Linked DNA regions of Homo sapiens: all the other regions are linked to region 2. The links come from fine-mapping of genetic effects on gene expression. A gene starts in region 2. Each other region holds a variant in brackets. All regions are shown on one strand. Distances are between the middles of the regions.

Region 1 (7,887 bases), 80 kb before region 2:
GAGGCCTAGGTGAGTGGATCACCTGGGGTCAGGGGTTTGAGATCAGCCTGACCAATATGGTGAAACCCCATTTCTACAAAAATAAAAAATTAGCTGGGTGTGGTGGTGTGCACCTGTAGTCCCAGCTGCTCAGGAGGCTGAGACAGGAGAATTGCTTGAACCTGGGAGACAGAGGTTGCAGTGAGCTGAGATCGCACCACTGCACTCCAGCCTGGGGGCAGAGCAAGAGTCCCTCTAAAAAAGAGAAACAACAGTATGTATGATATGATCCCATTTAATTACTTATACACACAAATATACATACACACTAGACATAACTGAAATTCTTCTTGTCCCTTGTATTGAAGGAGAAATATCCTTAGTATCTCTTCCCAACACCTCATATATCCAAACTTAATTTCCTTTCTTTTCTTTCTTTTTTTTCTTTTTCTTTTTCTTTTTTTTTTTGAGACATAGTCTCACTCTATCACCCAGGCTGGAGTGCAGTGGCATGATCTCAGCTCACTGCAACCTCTGCCTCTGGGGTTCAAGCGATTCTCCTGCCTCAGCCTCCCAAGTGGCTGGGATTACAGGCTTGTGCCATGACACCTGGCTAATTTTTGTACTTTTAATAGAGACAGGGTTTCATTATGTTGGTCAGGCTGGTCTCCAACTCCTGACCTGAAATGATCCACCCACCAGGCTGGAATGCAGTGGCATAGTCACAAATCACTATAGCCTCAACCTCCCAGGCCTAGGTGATCCTCCTGCTGCAGCCTGCTGAATAGCTGAGACTACAGGCACTCAACACCATGCCCAGCTAATTTTTAAATTATTTGCAGAGACAGGTCGCTTTATGTTGCCTCGGCTGGTTGTGAACTCCTCAGTTCAAGCAATCCTCCTGCCTTGGTCTCCCAGAATGCTGGGGATTACAGGCGTGAGCCACCACCCCTAGCCACACATACTTAATTTTAATTGTTCAGGACTTGGGTCAGGTACTCTCTGTCTACATCCTCTATCTTTGTTTTGCCCAAGTCAACCAGGATATAAAATTCACATTTTTCACTAGTTTCTAAAACAAATTTAATTACACTAAGCATTTCATGATCTATTGCAAACTCTGTTGGAAATTTTAGTGGTCATGGGGAGAAATCCTGTTGCAGAGCACAAAGCCATCTTGTTCACCACCTTTTCTTTCTCTCACAGTTCCTCATCTATCTTCTTGCTGTAGGATACCACCCCACATCCAAATTCTTCTCCCTCTTTTACAAAGCATAATATCTGCCTCTGTACCCATGCCCTGAGGCTCATCAGGGATATCAAAGGCAGCTCCCTCCCAGAAGAATGATTTGTACCAATTAAATGCTTTCCATTTTTGCTTTTGTGAGCTATCAGCATGAGAGATGGCTTCCCCTCTGGGCTACTGTGATTCTTTTATTTGCAAGGATACCTAACAACAGACAGAAACCAGACAAGGTTGGTTTGTTGGCTGGTTGGTTGGTTTCGAATTTGTCTTTCATTTTGTGAGCAAAATATTATTTTTCCTCCCATTTGTTTCCTACTGCAGAAGCTAGTAGACAACTTTCTGACAATAACTCCACATTTTCTAGCCCACATGATTTTCTGAACAGTCTAGGACCCCTAAACTGGCATGGCTTACTTGGTCAAAGAGTTTTCCTTTAATCCATAGCCCTTAGCCAAATTCCATGGTTATAAGTGAGTGATCACTTCAAAGAATGCAAGGCTCTTGCTTATTTATTATTTTCACTAGGGTAGAAACTATGGGCTCTTAGTGACATCCAATCATAATTCTCATGAGTTATTGGAGGAACATTCAAAGATTGACATTCAACTCAAACTTTACCTTTTTTTCCCAGCATCTCCCCTCCCTCACCAGCCCTTGGCAACCACCATTCTACTCTCTACTTCTGAGTTCAGTTTTTTTTTAGATTTTGCGTATAATTGGGATCATGTAATATTTGTTTTTCTGTACCTGAATTATTTCACTTAACATGATGTCCTCCAGGTTCATCCATGTTGTCACAAATGACAAGAATTTCTTCTTTTTTAAGGCTGAATATATTCAATTGTGCATGTATACATTTTCTTTATCCATTCATCGGCTGATGAACACCTAGGTTGATTCTACATCTTAGCTACTCTGAATAGTGCTGCAATGAACATAGAAGTACAGATATCTCTTTGCCATACTGATTTCATTTCCTTGGGATATATACCCAGCAGTGGCATTGTTGGATTTAGCTTTGTTATTATAAAATATTACACATTACAGAACAATACATAAACCATAAATATACAATATTTATGTACATATTTTTGATGAATATAATTTATTAATTTTAATGAAGTCCAGTTTATCAATCTTTTTAGTTAATGTTCTCTATGTCCTATGTCATGAGACTATTCTCTTCTGTTACCATTGAGAAGCTTTGTTGTTTGACCTTTCACATTTAAGACTACGAACCATCTGGAATTTATGTGTATGTGCTTTGAGATAGTGGTCAAGATTCATATTTTTCCATAAGGTTGTCCAATTAACCAGCACCATTTACTGAAAATACAATCCTTTCCTTCACTACATTGTGGTCATACTATTGTCATAAATCAAGTATAGATCATAAATGTATATGTGGATTGTTGACTCTATTCATTTGAACTATTCATCTCTCCTCACACTAAAACAATATTGTCTTAATTAGTACCTTTAAAATGAGTTTTTATGGCCAGTGGTATAAATCCTTCACCTTTGTTCTTCAAAAGTGTTCCAGCTATTCTTGACCTTTTCAATTTTGTCACGTTCTTCCAAAAAACCTGTTTGGATTTTGATTGGGATTGTGTTAAATCTGTAAATCAGTTTGAAGAGGGTTTCACATTTTCACAGTATTGAGGCTTCCAATCCGTTAACATGGCATATGTCTTTTGTTTTAGATCTTCTTTGTTCCCTTTGCCTTAGCTGTTCAGTTGCACTATGATGTGTCCAAATTTTCTTTTCATTTTTCCTCCTTGGGATTTATTTGGCTTCTTAAATCTGAGAATTTCTATATTTCATAAGTTCTGCAAAATTTTCAGCCATTATGTCCTCACCTGTTTCTTTTGTCCTATTCTCCCTGTGTTGCCCAGGCTGGTCTCTAACTCCTGGGCTCAAGTGATCCTCCCACCTCCGCCTCTCAAAGTGCTAGGATTACAGGCACGAGCCACCACACCTGGCCTATAGTAGATTTTGATTGCTTTGTTTTACAGTATTGATTTTACTCAAATGTTGAGAAGCTCTAGATATTTGTTCATCTTTTAATTGTGCATTCTTTTTTATTTATTTATTTATTTATTTTTGAGACAGGATCTCACTCTGTCACCCAGACTAGAGTGCAGTGGTATGATCATGGCTCACTGCAGCCTCGGACCTCCCAGTCTCAAGCAATCCTCCTGCCTCAGCCTTCCAAAGGGTGAAGCTCTTTGGAATCCCAGACTAAAATAGTGGGAGGTTTATGTAGGCTCAACACCTGGATGAGCATTACATGTTGGCTTTTGTTCCACTTGCCATGCAAAAAAACCCAAAACTTGGTTTTCAAGTGGTTTCTTCTATGTTAGTAAGTGTTTTCAAGGCAGAGGAATTTTAAGTGCTAGCCTTACCGCTCTGGATTCTTCATTCTCCTAGAATTAGGCCTAGCAATCACCTATTATCCTTTATTTTTTA[T/C]TTTTATTTTTTTAGATTCAAGCACATGTGCAGGTTTATTACAAGGGTATATTGCATAATGCTGAGATTTGGGCTGCTAATGATCCCGTCACCCAAGTAGTGAACATAATACCCAATAGGTAGTTTTCCAACCCTTCCCCACTTCTTCCCTCCATCTTTTTGGAGTCCCAGTGTCTATTGTTCCCATCTTTGTGTCCATGTATACCTAATATTTAGCTCCTACTTATAAATGAGAATATGCAGTATTTCATTTTCTGCTTCTGCATTAATCCACTTAGGATAATGGCCTCTAGGTGCACCCATGTTGCTAGAAAGGATATGATTTCATTCTTTTTTATGGCTGCATAATGTTCCATGGTGTATTATTACCACATTTTCTTTATCCAATCCACTGTTCATGGGCACCTGGGTTGATTCCATGTCTTTGCTATTCTGAATAGTGCAGCAATAAACATGAGCACAGGTATCCTTTCGGTAGATTAATTTATTTTCCTTTGGGTATATACTCAGTAATGGGATTGCTGGGTTGAATAGTAATTCTATTTTTGTTTTTTGAATAATTCTTTGTTATCTTGTGAGTTCTTCAACACTTCTACAAATATTTTTTCATGTAGCTATTTTAGTTGTCCTCAGATAGAAGGTTGTTTTGAACTATTCAGCCCATTGTTTCCGCTAAACTTGACTTTCTTACCTCGTTTGAAGCAATTTAATAAGCAAAAAATTCTGATCTCATGTAGAACACTGGTGGGTACTATTTTTTGTCCTCAAATAGAAATATTTCACAAGAAGCAAGCATAATATCAACTCAAAAATGTTTTGAGGAAGAGCTTCTGAGGATGTTACATTTTCTATAGTTTATATTCTGGAAAAGGACATACTAACGTTGCTCAGCAGTCACAGTTTATTCATCCCATTTTGCATTTCAATATGGATTATTACTCTATGGTTTTGCAGCAGGGTTTACTATTTTTCTATACTTAAAAAAATTTATAGTAGAGGTCTCAAAATATACAGTTGTATGTTTGCTATAGAATTAAATCACTCGGCATTTATGGCATATTCACGGTGGGCTAAGCAATATCCCAGGTGCTCTCCGAGTTGCCACCTGATGCAGATGGCCTCAGAGGAGCAGTGAAGCCAGTCCTCTCATTCACCTCCTTTGTTTTTCTCTAGCTGGTTGAAACACTGCATGCTGCTCGTATGGAATACAAAGACCTACGAGAGAAAATGAAAACTCTTGCCAGACAATATAAGATTGTTTTAAGTGAGGAAGAAAAAGCTTTTTTGCAAAAACAAAAGATTCATGATGAGTATGTCTTTACCCACACGTGTGATTCAACATGCCATCATTATGGGGTGCTTTTCTTGCTATCAAAGTGGTGGCTCTCCACTTAAACTTATCCTAGTTTTAAAATCTATTGACAAAAATGAAAACATTTGCTATCATTACTGGTTTCTGTCTCAGCAGCTCAGGCTGCCATAACAAAATACCATAGACTGGCTGCTTAAGCAACAGAAATTGATTTTCTCACGGTTCTGGAGGCTGGAAGTCTGAGTGAGGGCCCTTTTCTAGCTTACAGCCACCCAGCCGCTTTCTCTCTGTGTCTTCACAGGGTGGAGAGAGAACATGCTGTCTGTCTGGTGTCTTTCTTTTATAAGGTCCCACCCTCATGTCCTCATCCAAACCTAATCACTTCCCCAAAGGCCCCATCTTTATAATATGCTCGAGCATTATCACGACACTAATGCCCCACAATGTTCCTTTCTGCCATTCTAAAGCACTTTAAATTTTAATTTTTTCTCATGAAAAAAGCAATGCCTGTACTTGATTTTTAAATTCAAATATAGAAATGTATAGCTTAGAGAGTAAAAATTACCCAAATCTCTCTATTTCTTCATCATGTTGGGGGTTAGCATTTCAACAGATAAATTCTGGAGATGGGGGAGGCACAATTCAGTCCACAGCAGTTTGGAAGATGAGTCACTTAGATAAAATACTTTCTGATACAGGCAGCTTCCTATCAATAGCTGGGCATTTGAACAAGACTATAAACTTCTCTGAGCCTCATTATTTTCTCCTGCAATTTGAGACAAAAAAATAACTACTTGAAACCCCATCTCTACTAAAAATACAAAAAATTAGCTGGGCATGGTGGCGGGTGCTTGTAATCCCAGCTACTCTGAAAGCTGAGGCAGGAGAATCGCTTCAACCCAGGAGGCGGAGGTTACAGTAAGCTAAGATCATACCATTGCACTCTGGCCTGGGCGACAAGAGCCAGACTCCGTCTCAAAACAAAACAAACAAAAAAAACCCTTATCAATCCACACGCTGAGAGGAGCACTTTACATCTTATTAAATTCATTCATCCGTTGAGCTAGGCATTGTAATTCTCATTTTATAGCTGGTGAAACTGAAGCTTATTCACAGGTGAAGCTAATTGTTAGCTTAAGATCACACTCTTATTAAAAGGTAGAGCCAATATGCAAAATTAATCTGACTGACTCCTTCACCTTCCATGGAAGAACATGACAGAATTGATAAGCACGTTAGGAGAGACACACCCACTCAGAGACATGGAGCACTACACAACTGTTCTTGTTGTTTTGTGGTTACTATTGTGGTGAATATTCTTTCAGTGGCTTGGGAATTTTCATAAATTTTATGAAAATCCTATGTGTATGCTGGGCACAGTGGCTCACGCCTGTAATCCAGCACTTTGGGAGGCCAACATGGACCAATCGCATAAGACCAGGCATTTGATACCAGCCTGGGCAACACAGGGAAACCCCATCTCTACAAAAGTACAAAAATCAGCTGGGAAAAAATTTGAAAAAAAGAAAATCCTTTGCATAAATTTAGATCTAGCTACCACTAGCAAAAAGACTTGCTTTCTATTTTTTAATAATTTATGTAGCAAATAGCTCATGATCTGAACTTTCAAAACTATTTTTGAAATTCTTATTTGTGTTTGCATATTTATGTCAGCCTTCAACAAATAACTCTGTTTTTCATGATAGAAATCAGAAACAGCTGACATTTATTTCTCAGAAAGAATACTTTCTGTCACAAAAGAGAGTAGACATCAAAAATATGGAAGAAGGACTCATCACACTCCAGGAACTTCAACAGTATGTTTGTTGCCTTTGAAATTTTTTATCTTTACTTTCTCTGCATTTATTTTTTAATAAATGATAGCAGTAAATCTATGTTGATTTCTAACATACTACAGAAAAGGAAGTTTAGAACTAGCTCTCTCTGTTTCACAGTCTGGAAGTCACTCTCATGGACTTTTTCATTGAAAGGATAAACAGGTTCTGAATTCTATGGGAGCTCCTGGGCCCCAGGAATGGACCAGTTGGGGTGCAGTGACAAGAATGTGCCTGAACATTATCACAACACTGAGTCCCATTGATGTTCATTTCTGCATTCTAAGTCATTTTAATTTTAATTTTTTTCTGATTAAAAAATAATACCTGTACATGATTTTAAAATTCATATATAAAATGCATAACTTAGAGAATAAAAGTTACCCTAAAATCTCCATCTCTCCACAGGCATAATCACTGTTAACAGTTTACAATATATGCTTTCAAATATATATTTATATGTATGTATCCAAAAATTGGATTATACTCTACTATAACTGAATTTGTTCCACTTAAAATTATACCTAGGAGGATGATAAAACAAATAAGGTAAAATGTTAACAGTTGGAGAATTTGGTGAAGGATATATGGGAATTCTTTGTACTATTTTTTTATGCTTACCTGTTGAGTTTAAAACTATTTCAAAACAAAGAGAATATATATATATTCTCAATATATCTCAATCTTTTCTCTAACTGCATAGTATTCTATGCAGATTATAGTATAATACACATTATACTATACTGTATTTAACCAGCACTCTATTGATGGAGATTTACTTTTGTCTGTTGCCTATATTACAAATATTTGAAGTTAACATATCTCTCTCTACCCATATGACTTTTTTTTTGTAATAAAGTCCTAAAAGTTGAAGTGCTGGATCAAAGGAGGATGCATATTTTTCACTTTTATAATGATTGTCAAAATGACCTATGTAAATATTCTACCATTGTACACATTAAGACTGAGCATAAGGAGCTTATAGTTCAGTTGGGCAGAGAAGCAAGACTAACACATATGAAATAATTAATGAACCACATATGATG
Region 2 (7,887 bases):
CCCATGGTTTTCCCTCTTGTAGAGAGACTAACCACATCCACATCCCTAATTTCTGAGGTCTAAGGCCATACTGTAGATTCAGTACTTAGAGGACAACCAAGATCATTTTCCCCCTAGACTGTGGCCCTCTTCCCATATTTCCTAACTTGATTAATGGCACCACCATCCACCAAGCTAGGGACTTGGGATTGACCCTTGGCTCCTATTCACAATCTTTGTCCTCTTTGTTGATGCTCCTGAGGTGGATAGCTGTGGATTTCTCCAGCCATCATGCCTTTCCCCTTCTTTTACCCCCCAACCTTTTTTTTTTTTTTTTTTTTTTTTTTTTTAATGAGATGGAGTCTCACTCTGTCGCCAGGGCGAGAGTGCAGTTGGCATGATCTTGGCTCACTGCAACCTCTGCTTCCCGGGTTCAAGCGATTCTCCTGCCTCAGCCTCCTGAGTAGCTGGGATTACAGGTGCCTGCCACTACGTTCAGCTAATTTTTTTGTATTTTTAGTAGAGACGGGATTTCACCCTGTTGGCCAGGCTGGCCTTGAACTCCTGATCTCGTGATTCACCCACCTTGGCCTCCCAAAGTGCTGGGATTACAGGCATGAGCCACCGCGCCTGGCCTCCCCTTCTTTTATCAACAGCATTCTCCTTTTTCTTTGGGAAACTACCTGCATGTAGTCTTGCTAGGACTGCTGGGAAACTGGTACACCAGTCAAGACTTTTTCCCCCAGACCTGAGATCTTGAGAAATGACATAAGGTCTGAAAACTGAAGTTGATCTGTTCCAATGGTGGCCTAAAGAGATCACTCCCATCAGTTTCTGCTCTCCCTACCCACAGGACTGCTCTGACTTCTCTTCTTCTTGGAGCTGCTGTTAGACTGTCCTTTTGTAAATGGAACTTCCCCTGTCCTTCCAGTAAATTCCTATATTGCTTATGTGAACCAGTGTCCTCATGTGTTACTTACGCCCAGAGAATCCTAATCCATATACTACCTACCCTAATCTATACATGACCTCTCCTTCTTCACTGCAAAGGTCCACTTCAGACTCTCACTTTTCACCTGGACTGTTAGAATGCCTCTCCTTAAGTGGTCTCCTAAATTCCAGATTCTCCTCTTACAGTTACTCAAAAAATATTTTTTTGTATGTTGGCATTTGTATAGCAGTTTGTTAGAGTGCTAAGTGCTGGGGATCTCATAAAATAAACAGGCAAGGTTTAGGTCCTCATATAGTATAGAGTGGGAGGCAGGTAATGCTTAGATAATCACGCAAAAAATTATAGACCATGGTTATGTGCTACAATGGAAAATACAGAGTGCTGTGAAACTAACAGGGGAACATGGCCCAATACGTGGGGAAAGGACGGTATCAGTCAAGGGAGGCTTCCCCCATGGACTAACCTTAACGCGAAGATGGGGATGCTAGGGAAGGGAAGAAGAAGATGGAGCTTTCCAGGCAGAGGGGATAGCAAGTGCAAACACCCTAAGATGGAAGGTTTAAGGAAGTCATAAAAGCCAAGTGTGGCAGGAACACAGAAAAAAGAAGGAAAGTGGTACCGAATGAGACTAGAGAGGAAGCAGGGTCAAATCATGCAGTGCCTTGTAGGAAATATTAAGGATTGGGGTCCTTATTCTAAAATAAATGGGGAAAGCCAATAGGATTTTTTTTAAAAGAGACATGGTCTCACTATGTTGCCCAGGCTGGCCTGTAACTACTGGGCTCATACGATCCTCCCTCCTCAGCTTCCTAAGTACCTGGGACTACAGGCACATGCCACTACACTGGCCTAATTAGAAGAGTTTAAATAAGTAAGTGGCATGAAGAATTTTTTTAAGAGCATTATGCCTAGCTGCCTACAATGTAGGAACTGGATGTGGGAAGACCGGTTAGGACAACAGTGACAACAGTAGTCCAAAGAGAGGATGAGAGCCAAGATTCAGGATGGAGGAGATGAATGGATGCAAAGATAGTCCGCAACTAAAATCCATAGGTCTTGGTTGATGAATTGGATGTGGACTGGTGGTAAGGAGGAGGGATTCATCAAGGAAAACTCTTAAGTTTTTGGCTTAAAAGCTAGAAGGATGGTTCTACCATATTCTGAGATACAGAGTATTGAAGACCAAGTTTTACCGGGGAAGTAGGAAGAAGATCATGCACCCATTTGATGTGCCACTGGCACATCAAGGAGAGAGATGCCAAGTAGCAGGACATGTAGGTTGGGGCCACAGACATAATTTGAGTAATGAATATATAGATTATCTTTGAAGTCCTGGATGTGAGTGAGATGGGGCCGAGGGGGGAGTCCAGAGGAGCTGAGAACAGGGCTTTGATGAACTCCAGCATGTAAAGGCAGGTGGAAGAGGATGAACTGGCAGAGGAGAGGACACTGAGAAAGATGAGGAAGGAAGGAAGCAGAAGAGTGCAGTCCTTCTGGTCCTTCTGAACCATGCACTTGCTCACGGCCCTCCCTTATGCTATTAGCCCCTCCTCCCCTGATGAAGTTCAGTCTCCAGAGCATGGCCTACAAGGCCCATCATAAGGTAGCCCCAATAAACTTTGATCATTTATTTCCTTCTTCACTCCCCATCTCCAATATCCTAGAATTCAGACACTGCTCACTTCAACACTAACCTCCAGACTTTGCACATTCATCAAATGTTCTTTCCCTTTCTTCTTTTTTTAAAAAGTCTAATGTCACCTCTTGTACAAAGTCTTTGTCAGGAAGACAAATAATTTCACTCACATATTTTTAAGACAATATTTAGCACACTGTAATATACTGTGTTGGCCGGTGGCTTAAGCTTATTTGGGCTGGGTTTCCTATCTTATATGTTGTTTCCTAAAACTAAGCACAATCTGAGAAGATTGTGTTTGCCAAATAAATTAATGTATGATAATTATATTTTTGCTTTGATTGACAAAATTAAGACAAAATCAGTCTAGATTAAGCTGGCATTGACTGCTCCCAAGAGGATATTTGGCAATATCTGAAGACAGTTTTAGTTGTCACAGCTGGGAGAGGTGCTACTGGCATCTCGTAGGTAGGAACTAGGGATGCTGCTGAACATCATACAATGTATAGATGGCCCCTGCAATAAAGAATTATCTGGCCCAAAAGTCCATGACGCTTAGGCTGACAAACCCAGTTTTGGTTTGCCACCTTAAACGTTCTTCTATTTATACTGTAAATTTCCTGTAGGATATTTTTTCTGAATGAAATAAGCACTCCAATACTAATACCATTGATTCTAAGATCTACAAATATACTAGTCATTCTTTAGAGCAGTGTTTCTCAAATTTGTGCATCAGAATCACTGGGAGGGCTTGTTAAAACATAGGTGCCTGGGCCCCACCACAGGAGTTTCAGTAGATCAGGGGTATCCTATGCACTGTAGGCCTGATAATTTGTATTTCTCAAGGTTTCCAGGGGATGTTGATGCTGCTGGTCCAATGTCCATACTCTGTGAACCACTGCTTTAGCGAAGAGCCCAGGGTTAGTTAACCTGAGGGTTTATCACACTTTTCCCCATTAGAGGCCATGCCCAGAAACTTGAGATGCAACTTCCCTGGGTAGCCCTGCCTTTCTTTTCCCCGTATCTCCCAGCCAGGTACCTGGAGCTGCATCTGTGGTGATTGCCAGGCTGGCAGCACCTTAGACTCAAAACATACCCCATTCCTGAGAACAGATGAAGGCTGCTAGCAGGGCAAGGCACCAATCCCTCTCCCCCCATTTATCAGCCAGTAGGGGCCTGAGGTCCAGGCCCTTGGAAATGAAGTAACATCTAAAGGAACTATCCTAGCTCCTCAGAGCACCTGTATCAGAATCACCTACGGGGTTTAGAGTCATGGGCCCATCCTTAGTAATTCTGTCAGCCTGGGAATCTGCATTTTATGAAACTCTTGACATCAGTGCTTCTGTAAGTGTGGTCCTGGGACCAGCATCATCATCACCACCCGCGAACCCGTTAGAGATACAAATTCTTGGGTACTTCCCCAGACATATTCGAAACGCTGGGGTTCAGACCTCGTCACTTGTATTTTAACACGCCCTCTATGTGAATTCTGTTAGCTCAAGTTTGAGAATTACTGGTTTAAATTAGTCTGCTTCTCAAGTTTAAGATGTCTGGATGTAGACTTCTGGATTTTTCTTTCACTTCACTTTCTAGATTCCTTTCCTACCTGTATATACCAAAAGCACCCACAGGAAGCAGAGTGCCCCCCCCACCACTCCCCAAAAGGCCTGCCTGTAGAACATTTGTACCCTACAAAAGAGAGCAAGAGTGAACTTTCGTTGAATCTGGTCATTTGTTTGCATGCCAGTCGGCACTTTATCTGGCCGGACATTGGTCCCTCAGGAGGTCGACCTGGCACTCTCGGAAACCCGAACACCCGGGCCGGTAACCTCCGGAGTGGCGGTGTCGCGGGTCGGCTTTGCAGCGGGTACTGGGCTGCCGTCCCGCCCCGCGCTCCTGCGTAAACACGCGGTTCCCTCGGCAACGCTGGAACCCACGTCAAAGGCTCCGCCAGGTCCCCAGCGACCGCCACCCCTCCGGCCGAGCCCAGCTCCCCGCGGCGGCCGCTAGCCCCCGGCCCCGAGCCACCACTCCGACCTAGCGGCCGCCGCCCCCGGTGCGGGATGAGGAGATCCGCGGCCGCCACTGGGCCCCATGGAGGAGCCGCAGCCGCCCCGCCCACCAGCGAGCATGGCCTTACTGGGCAGCCAGCACTCCGGCGCCCCCTCCGCGGCCGGCCCACCTGGCGGGACTTCCTCCGCGGCCACGGCGGCCGTGCTCTCCTTCAGCACCGTGGCGACCGCGGCGCTGGGGAACCTGAGCGACGCAAGCGGAGGCGGCACAGCTGCCGCTCCCGGTGGCGGCGGCCTTGGCGGGTCCGGGGCAGCGCGGGAGGCGGGGGCGGCGGTGAGGCGGCCGCTAGGCCCGGAGGCGGCGCCGCTGCTGTCGCACGGAGCTGCAGTGGCGGCCCAGGCGCTCGTCCTCCTGCTCATCTTCCTGCTGTCTAGCCTTGGCAACTGCGCGGTGATGGGGGTGATTGTGAAGCACCGGCAGCTCCGCACCGTCACCAACGCCTTCATCCTGTCGCTGTCCCTATCGGATCTGCTCACGGCGCTGCTCTGCCTGCCCGCCGCCTTCCTGGACCTCTTCACTCCGCCCGGGGGTTCGGCGCCTGCCGCCGCCGCGGGGCCCTGGCGCGGCTTCTGCGCCGCCAGCCGCTTCTTCAGCTCGTGCTTCGGCATCGTGTCCACGCTCAGCGTGGCGCTCATCTCGTTGGACCGTTACTGCGCTATCGTGCGGCCGCCGCGGGAGAAGATCGGCCGCCGCCGCGCGCTGCAGCTGCTGGCGGGCGCCTGGCTGACGGCCCTGGGCTTCTCCTTGCCCTGGGAGCTGCTCGGGGCGCCCCGGGAACTCGCGGCGGCGCAGAGCTTCCACGGCTGCCTCTACCGGACCTCCCCGGACCCCGCGCAGCTGGGCGCGGCCTTCAGCGTGGGGCTGGTGGTGGCCTGCTACCTGCTGCCCTTCCTGCTCATGTGCTTCTGCCACTACCACATCTGCAAGACGGTGCGCCTGTCGGACGTGCGCGTGCGGCCGGTGAACACCTACGCGCGCGTGCTGCGCTTCTTCAGCGAGGTGCGCACGGCCACCACCGTCCTCATCATGATCGTCTTCGTCATCTGCTGCTGGGGGCCCTACTGCTTCCTGGTGCTGCTGGCCGCCGCCCGGCAGGCCCAGACCATGCAGGCCCCCTCGCTCCTCAGCGTGGTGGCCGTCTGGCTGACCTGGGCCAATGGGGCCATCAACCCTGTCATCTACGCCATCCGCAATCCCAACATTTCGATGCTCCTAGGGCGCAACCGCGAGGAGGGCTACCGGACTAGGAATGTGGACGCTTTCCTGCCCAGCCAGGGCCCGGGTCTGCAAGCCAGAAGCCGCAGTCGCCTTCGAAACCGCTATGCCAACCGGCTGGGGGCCTGCAACAGGATGTCCTCTTCCAACCCGGCCAGCGGAGTGGCAGGGGACGTGGCCATGTGGGCCCGCAAAAATCCAGTTGTACTTTTCTGCCGAGAGGGACCACCAGAGCCGGTGACGGCAGTGACCAAACAGCCTAAATCCGAAGCTGGGGATACCAGCCTCTAAGACGGTTGGAATGGCCAGCTTATGAAGGCAAATTTCCACTCGCATTATTTAATGATGGAAGATTCTGGGGGAGAGTTGTGGATTTCATAAAGCCAAACATTTAAAGCTAGAGACGGGGGAGGCTTACCACTTTCCCCAAACAACATAAAAGACAATGTCCCTTCTTCAAAAGTGCCAAAAGGAATGTAAAATGCAAAAATTAAAACAATCTTAAACCACATAACCAAGCATTGTGAACTGTAAGTGCCAAAAATGACAAAAATAACATTCACTATAACTGAAAAGCTCATATTATAGGACCACACTGTGAAACAAACAAAACATTGAATGCAACCAGTATTGTTCAACTACACAGAATTTCAGGAATGAATGGAGACCTTCAGAGCTGCTTGAAAGCCCCTCTAAATCGCTACCATCCAACAAAACTTTAGCTTCTAGAGCTTGCACCTCTGACATGCTTTGGGTGCTTAGATTGCAAGTGGAAAAGTCTTATCCTTACACACATTGGTGCACCTCCTCACCCCACCCCCTAATAACCTTTGTGGAAAATTTTTAATTCATAACCCATTTAAAATCATTTTAGGATTTTGAAAAGCTGGTTATTATTAGATAAAATTCAACCATCTGAAGGACAAATAGAAGTATGAACATAAAGAAATGTGTCTTTTAAATGTTTTCCAAGATTATATGTAAAAATTAACATTCCTTCCACCCGCGTCATACCTCCAAAATGATCTTCCTTGGAAAACTTTGAAGTTTTATCCTTACTCTAACCTGTTACTTTTATTTCTGATAAATTTTGGAATGCTGCTCTCAGAATGCTTTCACATTTAAAAAAATATTTTCATTGTAGAAAATTTTTGTCTTTTGAGGTAAATTTGATTTTTGGATATAGCCAAAAATGTAATTTGAAGTCAAGTTGATTGAATAAGGTGAGTGATGCCACTTTATTTAAATTTTTATTATTTTTTAAAATGAGACCTCTATAAAACAACAAGGTTGGGTTTCCTACGTGGCTTTTAGCTAACTGAAAACGATTCCAAAGAGAAATTCTAAAACTATTTTGAGAAGCAGCCTCTTGGAATTAGCGTAGACTTTTCCAAATAGATCATACCCTCCTACATTTAGAAATTTGGTATATTTTGTATTTTTTAAAATAGCTGATGGTTGCTTTATAGCTATGACTTGTCGAAGATAATGTATTTATTAAAGGGAGAATAGGTGTGGGACTATATGTAACGGTATTAAAACACAGGCATAAAGTTGGAGAAGAACTTCAAGCAAACTGAAAATATCTTTAGAAATATGCAAATCAAAGATGCTTTTTAAATTTCTATCTTAGCAGAAAAGATGGTTTTACAATAATTCAAAAGCGTATGTGAACTTTCTAATGTTAAATACGACTATACACAGAATCATTTACTCAGAATTTTTTTAAATATTATTTTTCCCTTTCTTTTCCTCCATCCTGCCCCTTTTCTTCAGTATTTCATAGCCTTAATTGAACAAGTTATTTACAGTAGATATGAAAAGACATTAGCTGTCGTATGAAGATTTCAATGTGAAATAGCCAGCATTTTCTTCCTGTAAAGTATTTAAATATGTTTTTAAGTATTTCTTTGTTTGACAGGTGGGTACATGTCATTATTTTGTAATCAAAGGTGGAAATATATGAGTCATGTCAGAGCTAAAGATGTTTTAATTTTTTCTGCTTCTCAGGGTATCATCACAAATCAGAAGT
Region 3 (7,887 bases), 390 kb after region 2:
GTCTTCCTATGCTAGATAAAACAGTTGAGCCAATGTTAGTTTGGCCTGCTCCTCTCTTCCTAGGTCTTACAGTGAAATATACACCAGAGAGAGATATTGACCCTTTCCCTTCTGATGCAATAGGCTTGAAACAAAATACTGGTAAAGAAAAAGCTATCTATTCTAGTGGATAGAAATCTGGAGAAATATCACAAATGTTCTGAGCCCCAGACCTACTGAGACTTTTGCAGGAAGCATTACCTCTATCCTACCTGGCAGACAAAACACTGCCTGCCCTTTTTTGCTAGATAATTCTAAGTGAGGAAGCCTGTGGACTTACTAAATGACCTATATGATCTGCGAGGAGTAAAACACAACCATTCTGAAGGGAAACATACCCGGAACCATAAGAGTCTTTCACTAGGACCAGGGTAAGATGGTTTGGGGGGAACTGTCAAATATTTATGGCTTTTTGTTCTTACACTGAATAAGTAGAATTTTTAAAAAATGTCTGGTGGTGAAAAGAACTTAAAACAGTTGAAGTATTCGGGGTGTCTAAAGTAAATTAAAACAGGCTGGGTGCATCATAATTTAGTTAGCCAGTTCTTTATAGATAGACATTTAGTTTATTTCTAGCTCTTTTCTATTTTTTGGCATGCAAGCATCATTGTACATGTATCTCATCACATTTATTTGATTATACTCTTATGATCATTGCCTTAAAATATAGTTACTAAGAGTTTGTAAAACTTCCAAACTTTTGATACATATTGTTAAGTTGCCCTCTAAAAATATAATAAAAGTTGCCATTTCCACTAAAAGTATATGAGAATAGTTGTTTTCTTAATACTGTCACCAATATTATGTATTACCATTTATTAAAAATATTTTTTAAAACTTGTCTAATCTGAAATGTGAAAAATGGTACATTGTTTTAAGATTACTTGTGAGAACAATGATCATAATCATTATCATTTTTTGCGGGAGTATCTTACTTTCCTCTCAAAATAGTTCAATGAGTAGGTCCTATTAATTCATATATTCATTGGCTATTTCTGCCTTCTAAAAATTAATTTGTGTGTATGTCTTTTGTGTGTTTTTCTATTAGGATTTTTGTTTTTTTATTTTTATTTTTATTTTTATTTTTTTTTGAGACGGAGTCTCGCTCTGTCGCTCAGGCTGGAGTGCAGTGGCGCGATCTCGGCTCACTGCAAGCTCCGCCTCCCGGGTTCACACCATTCTCCTGCCTCAGCCTCCTGAGTAGCTGGGACTACAGGTGCCCACCACCACGCCTGGCTAATTTTTTGTATTTTTAGTAGAGACGGGGTTTCACGGTGTTAGCCAGGATGGTCTCGATCTCCTGAACTCGTGATCCGCCTGCCTTGGCCTCCCAAAGTGCTGGGATTACAGGCGTCAGCCACCGCGCCCGGACTCTATTAGTATTTTTTTTTTTTTAGTGTAGAAGTGCTCCTTAAAGATTAAGGAAATCAAGTTTCTCCTGATAATCTTTTTTTGGGATGTGTCTTTAGCGGTACTTCTGTTGATCAAAAGTAACTGATAACTCAGAAAGTATGGAGAAAGTCCTAAAATTGAACACAAATAAAAACAAATGAACCTCAATGTGTATAAAAATGTTAACATAACCACACAGAATAAAAAAAATTAATACAAGAGACTTTTGAATATATTACTTTGATGTACACTCTCAGGGAGATACATTCCAAGGACAAGAAGTACTATGAAGAAATACTAAACATTACTTAGTAGGTTTCTTGTTAGTAGAAGTATTGAAGTATTGATAGAGTAATTTTGAAGTTATTTGCTCAATTTTAGAATGTTAGAATTGAGATAGATAGATAGGTTGATTGATATTGCTGGGAAAAAGACTCTTACTGAGGCATAAAGGTGGTACAAACATGAAATGGCACAAGGAAAGGAAGAACCCTTTGGTGTTTGATTGGCACTGGAAAGTATGAACTTATAATTTTATATATATTGGATTTGTTTCTCTTAGCAACGTCTGGATTTGTAAACACGCTCCAACAAGAAGCAGGCTGCACAAGCTTTGTAGATCACAAGGAGCATTAACTCTCCCATGACCTTCAGATGTGGCCATAGGGGCTGATGGACAAAGAATTACCCCCTAGAGCTAGGAGCAATGGATACCAGGGAGTTTTCCATAGAAAGCTGAACCAGAGACTTGCTCCATAACCAGGACAGGGATCTTCACAATCTCTGACCAGAAGGATTTGCTTACCACTGTGGAAACAATGACTGTCATGTTTCTTCTCTTCTTTTTTTGGTGCCAAATCTATCACCATTGGCGGAGAAAAAGAACCTTCTCTTAGACTGTAGGTGATCTGACCCCAGGAGCCACACTTGGAGATAACTACCCATCACCAAGAGATCCTGGAATTTCAACCTGATGATATAACTGGATGGGACTTTGGGAGTATCTCCTGTGGGAAAAAGGAAAGAATTTCGTTTGGCAGGTCAAGTGTAGTTGGATATTTATGGGTGGCTAAAGGGGCAGTCTGTGGAAGAGACTTCTTGTTATTTCTTCCCAACATCCATTCCTTTCTTCTCCTATTATGAGAGATATTTTGAATTTTTGACAAATCCCAGTCTCCCTTGCATCTAGATGTGGCCATGAGACTAAGTTTTGGCCAAAGGGGTATAAATGATATTGTTGTACACAACTTTAGGCTTGTGACCTTAAAGTGAAACAGGTGTGCCCTACACTGCCCATTTTTTCGACCTTGTTTTAACTGTGGATGATGTGGATGAGGTGGTGAGCTACTATGGACCATGAGAATCAGTGGAGCATACTAGAGATGGTGCAACAATAAGAGAAGGAGCCTGGGTCCCTGAATGACCTCATGGGGTAGATGTCCTAAGCTAGTATCACACTATTTACTCCCAGACTGGTGGAGAAGAGAGAAATAATTTCTGGCGAATTCAAAACACTGTTATTTTGGAGCCCTGTTACATGCACCTTGACCTATATTCCAAATTAGATAAGTAAGATAGGTAAGATATCTTAATGCACTTTGGCATGCTATCATTCCCAAATACATGGGAATTAAATTTTTTTGGTATAAATTTACACTGAGAAACAAAAGTATCTAAAACTAAAAGTATTATTTTTTTTTTTTTGAGACGGAGTCTCGCTCTGTCGCCCAGGCTGGAGTGCAGTGGTGGGATCTCGGCTCACTGCAAGCTCCGCCTCCCGGGTTCACGCCATTCTCCTGCCTCAGCCTCCCAAGTAGCTGGGACTACAGGCGCCCGCCACTACGCCCGGCTAATTTTTTGTATTTTTTAGTAGAGACGGGGTTTCACCGTTTTAGCCGGGATGGTCTCGATCTCCTGACCTCGTGATCCGCCCGCCTCAGCCTCCCAAAGTGCTGGGATTACAGGCGTGAGCCACCGCGCCCGGCCCTAAAAGTATTATTTAAAAAGTTTAATTTATATTTGCCTTTGATTTGTTGGTATAAAATTTTTTTTTTAAATTTAAGAGTTTAATTTATAATAATGTCTTAGATGAATCAATTAGGAACTTATTTTTAAACTGAAAAATGTTACATTTTAAAAAGTTTTTCATAAAAAACATTTATACGTATTCTCTCAAACAGAAGTTTGGAAAAAATATTTGTTTTCACTCCTTTTATAAATGGAAGCTTTATATTCTCAAGTATTTTAATTGATTGCTTGGAAGGTATCTTTTCCAAACAGTTTTTAAAGCATGGAGGCCTTCAAATGCCATTTAAAAGCCCAAATGGTTTATATTAAATCTACAAATTTAGAGTTCTAAGTTTAGAGTTCTTTTAGAAAACTCAAAACCTTATTTTTTTCAAACAGCATTAACATACATGTTAAGTACGAACTGTTAAAAATGATATAGGATACATATAACTAATGAACATGGAATTTTTCATGTCTTCATTAGTTATATGTATCCTATATCATTTTTCACTTTTCAATTTTGAAATTCACATTTTCACTTTTTAATTTTGAAATCTAAATATCAACCTTTTCTGTTGCATCTTGAACAAACCGACATTGTTCCAATTGTATGTATAAAGCAGCTGTTTGGCATTTGGCTGGATCAGCTTCACATTTTTGCTTAAGAACTTCGGCAAATCTTTTAGATTCAGGTGACAGCCCTTACAACTTCTCAGCTAGATTTTTTTCTTGAGGGCTTTGTTGTTTTATCATACAGTTAAAATAAGAAATCTATTGAATTTTGATTAACCTTCTCCCTTGTATGTCAAGTTCACTCCTAAAAATGACCAACCAAAATCATGATTGGTTCACCAAATTTTATTTTGGAGGATCCATAATCTTTACAGGCACAGCAAATATGCTGAAGTATGGATAGGTACTTTCTTGAATCCTTGACCTCTCCATTCACAAAGGAATGAAAAGACACAGTCTGACAGATGATTCAAACTAGACTTGAGACTTGCTTGGCCACAGATGGAGTACAACTGGGGAGGGGGTCACCAATTCAAACATAGAAAGAAGATAATCAAAATGAGTCCTGTGTCAAGGATTCCACTGTGTATAGAACAAGCCCCTAACTGAGTAATCATATCTAGCCTCTAAGTCCACTAAAGATGGTAAATCAGAGCTGGCAGA[C/G]AGATACACGGTTCTGGAGAATTTGGAAATTTTGCATCAGTTATTCTGCAAATGTGATCCTAATTCCTAGCCAACTTCACAAAACAGAAGAAGCTATATCTCATTTCATATGGTAAGATACACTCAACATTTTGCATTTATATTTAATCTTAGCTAGCATATTGATCTTTGCTTATCAAAAACTGTGTCTATCATATCTGGTTGCAAAAACAGGGTGGCATGATTCCAGACCTGAGTTAGACAAATGACAGGTAGCCTACTGGAAGCCTACATTAAGGTTTTAAAGGGCCTCTTACCTTGGAGATTGGCATCGGGAGATACGGCAGTGAGAATCCTGTCTTGTTATCATATTTTAGATGCAATCACTTTGAGTCAATAAGAAAACATACTTGCTGATCCATTTAAACACAAATGTAAACATAAAATCAGCACATTTTTATACCCTTCCTTTTCTGTTTTACATAGCCATATCTCTTTCTAAGTCATATATAGATTTATCACCTTTTACAAAGTTAGCTAGATATTTGTGAGATCTAAAAATCAAAACAATTGAACTCATTGACACAGAGAGTAGAAGGATGGTTTCCAGAGGCTGGGAAGGGTAGTGGGAGGCTGGAGATGACTAATGGGTACAAAAATAAAATAGAATGAATAAGATCTACTATTTGATAGCACAACACAGTGACTATAGTCAACAATAAATTAATTATACATTTTAAAATAACAAAGAGTGTAATTGGATTATTTGTAACACAAAAGATAAATGCTTGAGGTGATGGATACCCCATTCTCTGTGATGTGATTATTTCTCATTGCATGCTTGTATCAAAACATTTCATGTACCCCATAAATATATATACCTACTATGTACCCACAAAAGTAAAAAATAAATTTTTAAAAAAGTTTGCTAGAGATTCCATTTACTAACCAACACCTTATTGATGAACATGTAAGTCGTTCTAATTTCTTGTTATTATTAACAATGCTCCTGGTGAGCTCCCTTCTCAAATGCTCATTTTTATATCAGGATCTGAGGGCTAGCTACAGAGAGGGCCTCCATATATAGATGCAGATGGGGCACAGCACAACTCCAGGGGTTACCCTTCATCCCAGGGTCTCTGTAAATGGTAGGCTCTGGAGTTAGGTTATGGACAACCTCCCCAGGCTGTATGTGATGGCTCTTGCTGCAGAATTCCACATGTTCCTTGGAAGATTACCCCTGCCCCAGCTCCAGGGAAAAATCTCCACTCCCACCTCTCCAGCATTCTTCACTTGACTCTTTCAAGATTCCTAATAGATTCCTAATGTCCAAGAAGGACACCACAATTAAATCGATTATTTGCCTCCCCTAAGACTAAGGTAGAATGCCTTATTAAGACCTGGTTTTGACATCATTTAAGAGCAGTATCTGGGAGGTGGGTGCTGCCTAAGTATTGGGGCAGTGTTATAAATTTGAGTGCCAGCAATGTATTTTGGAGGTGAACCCAGGAAATACTGGTAAGAGAGTGGGGAAAGGAGACTGAGAAGTAAAGGAAGACAATAAAAATGTAATTTCAAGCATGTTGATATGGTGGGCAACTGGGGCTCAATCCCACAGAAGAAACTTGGTGGGACAGTGTAGGACAGGTTTCAGAGTCATTCCCTCTGAGAGGTGAGGAGCCTAGAGAAGTTATTCATCAACTCCCCGTATCGATTTATGGCTGCTTTCAGGGGCATTAACTCTCTGACACTTCTGCCCTGCCCTTCTTTGTGCCTGGGCCTGTCCCCAAAGCCAGATAAAAGCTCTCAGACAGAGAGGTAGTTTTTTGGGCAAGTACCAACAGCATCTGCTTCAATGGTCATCCATGCCTAGAGTTTAAAAATGTGTTGGCTGGTAAATTGTCTGTTTTTAAGAAAATTTAAGATGGGTTTATATCACTTTTAACCAAATAAATTCTGACTAACATATATAGCAGACATATATTACCTACCTATATATAATATAAATAGTGATATATGATCACTATATATCACTATAAAATTATTGTGGGAAATAACAAGATAAATAAGATGCAAGACCTATGTTAAAAATAATGATTAATATGATTAATACTGGTTACTACTTATTAATAGTTCTTGTTTGAATTTAGTGGCCACCTACTATATAACAGACCCTATACTAATAATTTACATGGTCCCAAAAACCAGTTACATTTATTAAGTCCCTAATTTGAGCCAAGATTTCTAACTGTATTGTTTTGTTTAATCTTCACAACCTATGAGTTAGTTATTATTATCCTTTTTGTTCTCTCTGCAAAGGAAACCAAAGCTTATAGAGGTTAAAAACTTGCAAGATCACAAGTGGCAGGGCTGTGATTCAAACCATCACCACTACAGATGACAACTGAAGCAGGGAAAAATTAAGTGGTTTGCTTAAGATCACACAACCCTCCCTTCACCCCTTCCCTCCCCTCCCTTTACCCCTCCTCTCCCCTTCCCTTCCTTTTCTTTTCTTTTTTTCCTTTTTTGAGATGGAGTCTTGCTCTAGCACCCAGGCTGGAGTGCAATGGCGTGATCTCGGCCCACTGCAACCTCCGCCTCCTGGGTTCAAGCGATTCTCCTGCCTCAGCCTCCTGAGTAGCTGGGATTACAGGTGTGCGCCACCATGCCCAGCTAATTTTTTTATTTTTAGTAGAGACAGTATTTGCCATCTTGGCCAGGCTGGTCTTGAACTCCTGACCTCAGGTGATCTGCCTGCCTTGGCCTCCCAAAGTGCTGGGATTACAGGGGTGAGCCACCATGCCCCGCCAAATATGTTTATGTCTAATCCCAGGAACCTGTGGATTTGTCGTGTCACTTGGGAAGGGACAAAGTAAGATCAGCTGACTTGAGATGGGGAGGTTACTCTGTATTAGCAGGGTGGATGCAGTGTATGCACAAAGCTCCTTATAAGTGAAAGGGAGAGGCAGAGGAGTCAGCTTTTTTGAAGATTTGAAGATGATACCCTACCAACTTTGCCAACTCAGTAGATAGAGGAAGAGGCATGGGCCAAGGAATACAGATGGCTTCTATAAACTACAAAAGGCAAGGAAACATTTTTCCCCAGAGGCTCCTGAAAGAACATACTTTCCGACACCTTGACTTTGGATCACTGAGAGCATTTTGAATTTATGACTTCCAGAAATGTAATTATAAATTTGTGTTGTTTCAAGACACTAAGGTTGTGAGAATTTATTATAGCACTAATAAGAAACTAATATATTGAAACTATTAAAAGAGGTCTGTCTGTAG

Evidence for each region. PIP is the estimated chance that this variant, and not a neighbour inherited with it, causes the effect. A credible set is the group of variants that fine-mapping cannot tell apart.
Region 1: its variant is the best candidate, but not a certain one, in a credible set for the expression of GPR135 in whole blood (TOPMed, PIP 0.77).
Region 3: its variant is the best candidate, but not a certain one, in a credible set for the expression of GPR135 in whole blood (TOPMed, PIP 0.60).

What each region holds. Positions count from the first base shown.
Region 1 is chr14:59,542,280-59,550,166 of GRCh38, reverse strand. It overlaps CCDC175 (coiled-coil domain containing 175), which reads left to right. Exons shown (of 20, transcript NM_001164399.2): 9 at 4,868-5,004; 10 at 6,713-6,823. Among named protein-coding and RNA genes, the nearest start is that of CCDC175, 31 kb to the left of the region's middle. The variant T/C (reference allele first, on the strand shown) is at 3,695.
Region 2 is chr14:59,462,001-59,469,887 of GRCh38, reverse strand. It overlaps GPR135 (G protein-coupled receptor 135), which reads left to right and starts at 4,508. Exons shown (of 1, transcript NM_022571.6): 1 at 4,508-7,887. The coding sequence starts at 4,662. The coding sequence ends at 6,146. It also overlaps a transcript of L3HYPDH not described here. RefSeq lists a silencer at 4,438-4,977.
Region 3 is chr14:59,074,126-59,082,012 of GRCh38, reverse strand. No RefSeq gene overlaps it. Among named protein-coding and RNA genes, the nearest start is that of DAAM1, 110 kb to the left of the region's middle. The variant C/G (reference allele first, on the strand shown) is at 4,618.